2 linked regions of the Homo sapiens genome follow. The protein of the gene in region 2 interacts with the protein of the main gene of each other region in a pairwise test. Each region holds a gene or a part of one and is shown on either strand. Other genes may lie near its edges.

Region 1 (4,514 bases), on a different chromosome or scaffold from region 2:
CTTTCATGAGTCATGTGCAAACTCCTCCAACTGATGGTTCTGGATCCTTGCAGACCTTCCCCCTCCGGTGTGACTGAGGGATGGAAAACTGGAGGAAGAAGAGAGGCTGAAGGAAGAGGTTGCCAGACACTGATTCAGCTGTGAAGCTGCTAGCCCCACACAGTTGGCTCCAGAGAGGCAAACTACAAAAATGTGGCTGAAAAAGATGATGTGCATAAAAGAATCCACATGCCTCATATGTACTTTCAGCTAAAAGACACAGAGGGACCTTCCAAAGTCCAGGTACTTTCCTGTTGATAGCAAATGGTGCAGTATGGCATATAAGATAAGTAATGATAAAACGTCCCGGAGAGTTGTATTAAGACCTTGTTTACTCCTCTTTAGAGGTTAGCCTTCAAGGCAGTATAGGTTCCAAACATTTTGTAAACATCCAGTGACTTATAAAATGTGATAAAATAAAACTGAGAAATTACATGAAGGGCAGGGTTTGGAGGACTCAGCAGGGGCAGCATGAGCAGGCCCAGTCATACATTTGGTTCCCTGCCCCAGAACAGTTAGTGGAAGTGCGTGCACCACCTGCCAAAGCCAGGGTGGCCTTGGGTATTCCCACTTCAGTTCCCTCCTTTGTTGTCACAGCCATGTCAAATCAATGACACTAATCTCTGCTCCTGAACTTTAAACACATTACCTGACCTCTCAGGTGAGGACAAGCTATTGAGTTAATGTGTCAGCAGCATTGGCCCCCAAGGAAAGATCTTGGTGAGTGTCTAGATTCACATGGTACCATGTCAAGGCAGATGCTGTGCTGGGCGAACTCTTTAGTTTCTTTCCAGCTCCCCTCTGGTAGAGTAATGCAGCCTTTGGGTCCAGTGAAGAGACTAACAGAAAAGCCAGTCATCTATTGCATGTAATTGTGTTGGCCTAAGGAGGGCCTGGTCTACACTGCATTTTCTGACTCCTGGGCTGCACCAGCATTGTCTAAGGCTAAGGCATTGTCTGCCTGGCTGCCCGAGTCTGTAGTGACCGGCCCACAACATGGCAGACCACACACAGAGTGACACAGATGGTGCCCCTGTGTCCAGGCTTGAAGCAGATGAGATGCCAACCTGTTTGCCCTTTGAGTGACCTCCACGGTGGGGCCAGGACCCATGAATATCTCTTTGGAGTTCTACCCTGAGAGCTGAGGAATATTTTCTCACTTCATATGGATCCTACCTGGAAGCCTTTGCTATCGTCACTGGCTCACAGTCTTGCTTACTCCCCTGTCCTGAGAGTTTAAGACAATCTGCTAAGCAGGTATATTCGAAAAGGAGTTATTAAAATAAATGGCCGGACAGGTATATTTGAAAAGACGTGCAGTCTTGTCTTAGAGGTATACATTTGTGCATTAGACTCATATTCCTGACATTCAGGAAAGGTGACATTATTTTACACACACTTATTGTCACAAATACTGAACTAACAGCCCTGTTTTACCATCCAGAAGGAACATGCTGGAAATAGTCTATCTCCAAAAAATTCTGGTTTAAAAATGAATGAATTTAAACCATATCAATTCATTTAAAAATGTTAGACAATGGAAACCATGTTGCCACAACTCACTGAATTCCTAAGCTTTCTGTGAAAGAATTAAAATGAGGTTTATAGTGTCTATTTTCATGTCATTGTGGTTCCCTGCTCTTAATAAAAGTCAAATTGAGGTAGAAGTTAATGGGACAGGTGGAGCCTCCACTACCCACAGTGGAAAGTAACTCTTCTCTCCACCTGCTCTAGGATGCCAGGAATCCCACCAGTGAGAGGGTTTGCCCTCCTGTACTGTAACATAAAGGGGAAAAATATGTAAAATCCAAATTGGCTTTCATGGCTCCTGCCTTTTCAGGCTGCTAGTAGATTCCCATTAGGTGAGAAACAAAGCTCTATATTAATCCTAGCCTCCCAGAGACGGGAGGAAAAAGATTAAAGCAAAGAATAAATCCTCGAAACTTCCTCCAGGTCTCCTTTGCTCTAGAGGTTAATCATTGCAAGATAAACCATCCTGTGTATGACAGGGTGGAGGAGTGACTCATAGGAGGGAGGGGATTTTCAGGGGCATGGCACAGGAAAGAGGGAAGAGCCAGGGGACAGCTTCCCATGAAGTCTTGGTGTCCCCTGGTGCGTTATGTAAATGATATCCTGGGTTGGAAGGCGGGGGAGCAGGAACCAGGTCTACAGGGGCAATACAGCTACACATCCCTTCCAGCAGACACAGAACCCAGAAAGCGAATTAATGAGACAAAAATGCAAGCCACTCCTTCCTGTACCCAGAATCCCCAGAGCCTGGGAAGGGGATGAGGATCACACTGTCCATCATGATCAGCAGTTTGTAATCTGCCGCTGCCATGTTTTCATTGATTAGTCTTCGTCAGATCTAAGCTAATCAAATCATTCCCACTACCAAATGCTGTCCCTAAACCCTCCTAGTCACCAAAATTAGAAGGTGGATGGGAGAAATGCTTATTTATTCATTCATAGATCTGCATAAGATAATAATAACTTCTATGCGTTTGTAGCGTCCAACACTTCAGCTACTTCTCCTTGAACATCTCTTTTGATCTTCAAAACAGATAAGGGAAAAGGGGCCCGATTAGCACCCCAAGTCCAAGGAAACAAAGAGAGGAGTTTGGACAGTTACTCACAGATAGAGGAGCACCAGGCTGACAGCCAGGAGAAGCCAGGTTTCCACCGCCAAATTTGGGATGAGGTCCATCGCCACTTTCCTTCTTCAACTGTGTTCTGTGAGTCTTCCTTTTAGCTGAGTGCTGCTGTTTGCTGGGCTGTTTGCCTGGAGCTTCCCTGCCCTGCACAGCAGTCTTCAGCCAAGCTGCTGAAAGATTTATGTGCTGGAGAAGGAGGCAGGGCTATAGCTGCAGCCAATAGCAAAGAATCGCACACACCCCTTTGCTGACCTCTTTTGAGTTCATGTTCTATGAGGAATCATGAAAAGCTTAATCAGTGTTATCGGGGAGTCCAAGGGTTCTGGGTTCTTATCAGAAACTCAAGTGGAGCCATTGGCATGAAATCTATTAACCCTCCTCTCACCTGCCCCTCCATGGCTGCCTTCATTCTAGAATAATTGAAATCCATCCTCACAAGCCACACCTACACATCTTTACCCACGAAATTCCCTCTGCCTGGAGTGTACCTGTGCCCTCTAGATGACTCCTACGTATCCTTCCAAGCCCAGCCAGACAGACCCCTTCTGCTAAAATTTTTCCTTACCAACCTCCTCACACAAATGTAACCATTTCCTCCTCTGGGTGCCTCCTATCCCCCTCACACAGTCCTATTGTCCTCTTTTCTCTCTACCACCATTGTAAGTTTCTATGCCTGTTTCCCTTAGCAGAGGTGAGCTCCTCAAGGGCACAGTCTGGTATTATTTACTTTCATGACCCTGGTTCCTAGCAGGGTACTGTACACATGGTGGGTAACCAGGAATGTTGGTGGAGTTGTCTTGGGTGAGATTGCTGGGCGTCTCATCCCCTCTGACTCTGTGGTGATAGCAATAGACTAATGGTTGCTTGGGACTCAAATGCAGCCACACTGTGTCCCAACTAATAAAGTTGGTCTTGTTCTGCAAAGGAAAATAATAGAAATCATGTTCTGCCACTTAATTCCTCATAAGGTAACATAACATGAAGAGACTTACCTGTTGAGAGTTGTACTGAATCTGTCAAGGAAGATACTGTGTATCAGAAGAACACCCAACCAGTTTGTGCCTCTCATCTATTCATTCCTGTATTAAAGCATTCATGATGTATTTTAAAAGCTGTGCTCCCAGTACTTGGGTACAACACTGACTAAGGCCCAGACATTAGCTCAGTTGTTTTGATTTGTAGATCCCACAAGTATGTGAGAACTTGCAATATCTGTGTTTCTGTGCCTGGCTTATTTCACTTAACATGATGACCTCCAGTTCCATCCATATTATTACAGATAACAGGATCTCATGCTTTTTTCATGGCTGAATTGTGCTCCATTGTGTATAATTGGAGTACTTTCTTTATCCATTCATCTGTTGATGGACACTTAGGTTGCTTCCAAATCTTGGCATTTGTGAATAGTGGCTATTGTGAATATTGGAGTGATGTTATCTCTTCAATATATGATTTCCTTTCTTCCAGGTATATACCCAGCATGGGGATTTCTGGATATTGTGGTAGCTCTATTTAATGTTAATTTTAATGTTTTGAGGAACCTCCAAATTGTTCTCTATAGTGGTTGCACTAATTTACACCAACAGTGTACAAGGGTTCCCTTTTCTCCACATTCTCGCTGGCATTTGTTGTTGCCTGTCTTTTGGATAAAAACCATTTTAGCTGGGGTAAGATGATATCTCATTGTGGTTTTGATTTGCATTTCTCTAATGACCAGTGATGTTGAGCACCTTATCATATGCCTATGTGGCATTTGTATGTCTTCTTTTGAAAAATGTCTATTCAAATTTTGCCCATTTTTTGATTGGATTATTAGATTTT
Region 2 (3,820 bases):
TGAAAAGACTAAGAACTGCATAGGTAGGAATCCTGGCCACTGACCAGCTGTGAGACGTGGCAAGTGACTTTGAGCCTTTACGTGGCAAGTGACTTTGAGCCTTGTTTTCGTGTTCGTAAAATGAAGACAATGGAAGCATTAATAGCTTTCTCATTGAATTGGGAAGATTGAGTGAAATGATGTATGTAAGAGCAACTGGGCATAAAGGAAATGGTAAGGGGTCTGGCTGGCTGCCTCTTTCTTGGTCTGCCTTCTTTGTTCTTTTCCAGAGGTATTAGTTCTTCTCATCCATTTTTCCTTTGTTCTAGAGCATATTCTGTTAAACAGGTGTAAGTGGTATTTTTGTTTAGTTGAAAAAAAGGTTTATGCCTTCTATTTTTAATGTACAAAGTGAGCGAGTAGAGTATCTCCCATTTCTGTCAGTGTGGTAGAAGATGACTAAAATGACAGTGCGGAGGCCCTTGCCTCTTCTCCCCTCGAATAGCAGCACCCCTAAGCCCTTTAGTTCCATTGGGCCTCAGGATCCTTATCTATAAATGTGAGGGCTTGAATTCAGCATACTGAGGCCCTAATCTATCTCTGATTGCATCGTTGAGAAGATGCTAAAAGTCAGATGCCTCACTAAGTTATGCGGGCCAGCCATGTCTGTTTTGCTTAGCATCATAGGCCCCCGACATCCAGAATACCTGGCCCATCGAAGATACTCTGTGAATGAATGAATGAATGAATGAATGAATGAATGAAGACAGAAAGAAAGATCTTCATGACAAAGAAGGTAGTCCACATTCAGCAGGAATTATTTTCAGGGCACCACTGACTTTGTGGGCCCCTCTTCTACAATTCTGAGTTTAAACTCAAAGTTTCTAATTGCAGAAGATGTTTATTAGCTCAAATGTCAACTTTTTTTTTTTTTTTTTTTTTTTAGCATTTCTTTTCAAACTTCCTCAAGAGTTCATGATCCCTTTTCAATTCCAATTTGTTGCCATCCTTTATAGTCCTGGGTCTCTGTCATCATTTAGCAAGTCAGCTGTGCAAAGGTAAATACTATTTTTGAAAGCACAGGGTATAATTACACAACATCATAGCACCATCTGCAAGGTGCTGTGCCCTTTTCTTTATTTCTCAAGGCTGCATCACATACCTCATTTTACAAATGAAGAAACAGACTGAAAGCAAGGAGCATTCCTTGGCTTCTGAGTTCCTGCTTTAAATACACCACTATCTCTGACTAACACATGCCAGAATTAGGCTCCTTCACACATCCTCTAGTCCCACAGACCTTTGAGGAGCTGAGCCTTGTTCCTCACCACTCACAGGGCCCCTCATGGCTTTCCTGTCAGTGTAGATCTGTGAAACTTTCCATTCTTGTTCCTGCCATGTTTTGTCCTGCGGGGAAAGTATATGTAACTAACATTGTACCCAGCCTTGTAGGGTAGATGTGGTCCCTGCCTTCACGGTTAAGAACAAATTGGAAATATAATCCATTTGTTCACAAAAATACTTTTTGAACTCCCCCTTTGTATAAAGAATATACTATTCCACATATAAGACGTTTTGGGGTAGAAGGTACTATATAATTTAGAGCCAAAATGATGTGGTACACACTAAGTACTGTCTGGATTTGAAGAAATCAAGACATCAGAATTCGCTGGCAGCTTAGATCCTTTTAGATACGTGCAGTTCCTGAAACAAATACAAAGTGTTTCTGGGCAACTTTGGCATACCCTCTGGTGTTAGACTTGTCAGCAAAATTGGTAACTGTTATAATAATATTGTGACAATGTCAAGACACTTCTAAAACCTGAAATCAGACCATTCAATAATACCCTAATTGTTTTCTTTCCAAACTTAGGTAAAGTGGTGATTGCAAATGATTATCTTTAGATAAAGCAAGAAAAGTAGACGTTTCAAGGACATGTAGCTTTTGTTTAAATTGGGTCATCATTACCTTTCCTCATTATTTTGCCAAAACTTTTATAGCAGAAGACTGGTGAGAGGAAGGGCAGTGACCACGGGGCAGTGCTGAGAACTGCCAGACTATCTACTGTGTTGGAGGAAGGGATTTCTGTGTCAAATTCTCATTTACTAGCAACATTCAAACAAGCTTCGCTATTTTCTGTGTCTGAATATCTGAAACAGTTGATAACAATTGAGTGTTGGCTGCCATGATGTCACCATCAAAAAATCACGAGAGAAACTCTAATGACTTCTAAATATAATCTGCTAGTTCTCAACTTATTTTATGTATTCAGGAAAAGCAGTTGGCATTATATAAGAAAAGAATTATGAAAACCTGTCCTTTCCAGTCAGTCACTGGCAAGACTTTGCAGCAACATTGCTTTATAACCTTGTCATCTGTGATAGAGTCATCTGTCTCGTATTCAATCCTGAATTCAGAATTTGGGATTATAGAGGCACCTGAGAGGCCAGTTGGCTGGAAGATAGTTCAGCCTTATCAGATATTAATAGAAAAGAGATGATTGTTTAGGCCGAGTGCGGTGGCTCACGCCTGTAATCCCAGCACTTTGGGAGGCCAAGGTGGGTGGATCACAAAGTCATTAGTTCGAGACCAGCCTGGCCAACATGGTGAAACCCTGTCTTTACTAAAAATACAAAAATTAGCTGGGCATGGTGGCGGGCACCTGTAATCCCAGCTACTCGGCAGGCTGAGGCAGGAGAATCGTTTGAACCCAGGAGGCAGAGGTTGCAGTGATCACGCCATTGCACGCCAGCCTGGGCGACAGAGTAAGACTCCGTCTCAAAAAAAAAAAAAAAAAGAGAAAAGTGATGATTTGTTTAGCTAGTTCTACCTCGTATAATTACTAAGAAGTAACTCCTAAAGATGTTTTAGGAGTAAACATTGAGTCAAAATGAAAATGTTACTGGGTCACCAGACCACTGACTGTAGTTAGCTATTTAATGAGACCTTTGATACAGTGGCCAGTGGCCAGCATAGAAGCTTAACTTGCTCTCCTTCCCCACCTTCCAAGGTAGCTAGACAAGGAGTAACCATTCTAACTCAACTAGAAGGCAGCCCTTATAGCGCAAAATGCATCTTTCCACTTTGGATAAAATGCTGTCTCTGCAACAATTTAGCTCCTAGAGAAGACAGAAAAGGCAAACTCGGTTTTTTGTTCTTTGGGTTTATTTTGGCCACTACATGTAAATCACCTTGATTTGAAAAATTCTTGTTACTCTGCCCTCTCAGAATCCTATGTGGTATATGTAGTTGGCTTCCAAGCCAAAAGCAGTAGCTCCATGTATTTATTCCATGAATTCAGCAAAATTCACTGCACCATCTATGAAAGGACTGGTTACGCAAACCTACCCTTGCTGGTCGGTCACTGAGACAGGCCTGGAGCAGATGTTGTAAGCACAAAGGTAGCCAGGCTTTCTGCTTTCTGTATTCATTAGCCTTTCCTAGGTGGTGGATTGGTCTGTTGTTTTATTCCTTTGCTTTTAAAATTTTTGGAATGCCTCTAAAGTTGAGTATTTCTTGCTGAGAGCTGATATTTAAAGTTACTTGAGAAAGGACTTTTTAAAAATTCTATATTTAATTTGTAAATATGCATCTGAATAAGAAATATATTTGCCACAGCAATTTTAAGCCTTTGATAAGCTTAAATGTGTTGGTAATGTCTACCAACACATTTTTGGTCGTTTTGTCCTTTTTGGAAACAAAATTCTTCATGTCTGCAGCCACTTGCATTTTTGGTGGAGACCCATTACCTGCAAGGTTTTTAAGGATTTTGCAGCTTCTGGAAAGCAAGACCCATGACCAAAGAAATTTGGGAAAAAAGACTTGGCTAATTAAAAGTAT

What was found.
Region 1: the proteins of ETV5 (region 2) and CYP3A5 interact in a two-hybrid assay, tested with the Homo sapiens proteins (one large-scale study listed by BioGRID and IntAct).

What each region holds. Positions count from the first base shown.
Region 1 is NC_000007.14:99,677,151-99,681,664, forward strand, and holds the start of CYP3A5 (cytochrome P450 3A5), read right to left. Parts: upstream 2,847-4,514; 5' UTR 2,747-2,846; coding exon 2,676-2,746; intron 1-2,675. UniProt on the Homo sapiens protein: A cytochrome P450 monooxygenase involved in the metabolism of steroid hormones and vitamins.
Region 2 is NC_000003.12:186,081,386-186,085,205, reverse strand, and holds part of ETV5 (ETS translocation variant 5), read left to right. Parts: intron 1-3,820. UniProt on the Homo sapiens protein: Binds to DNA sequences containing the consensus nucleotide core sequence 5'-GGAA.-3'.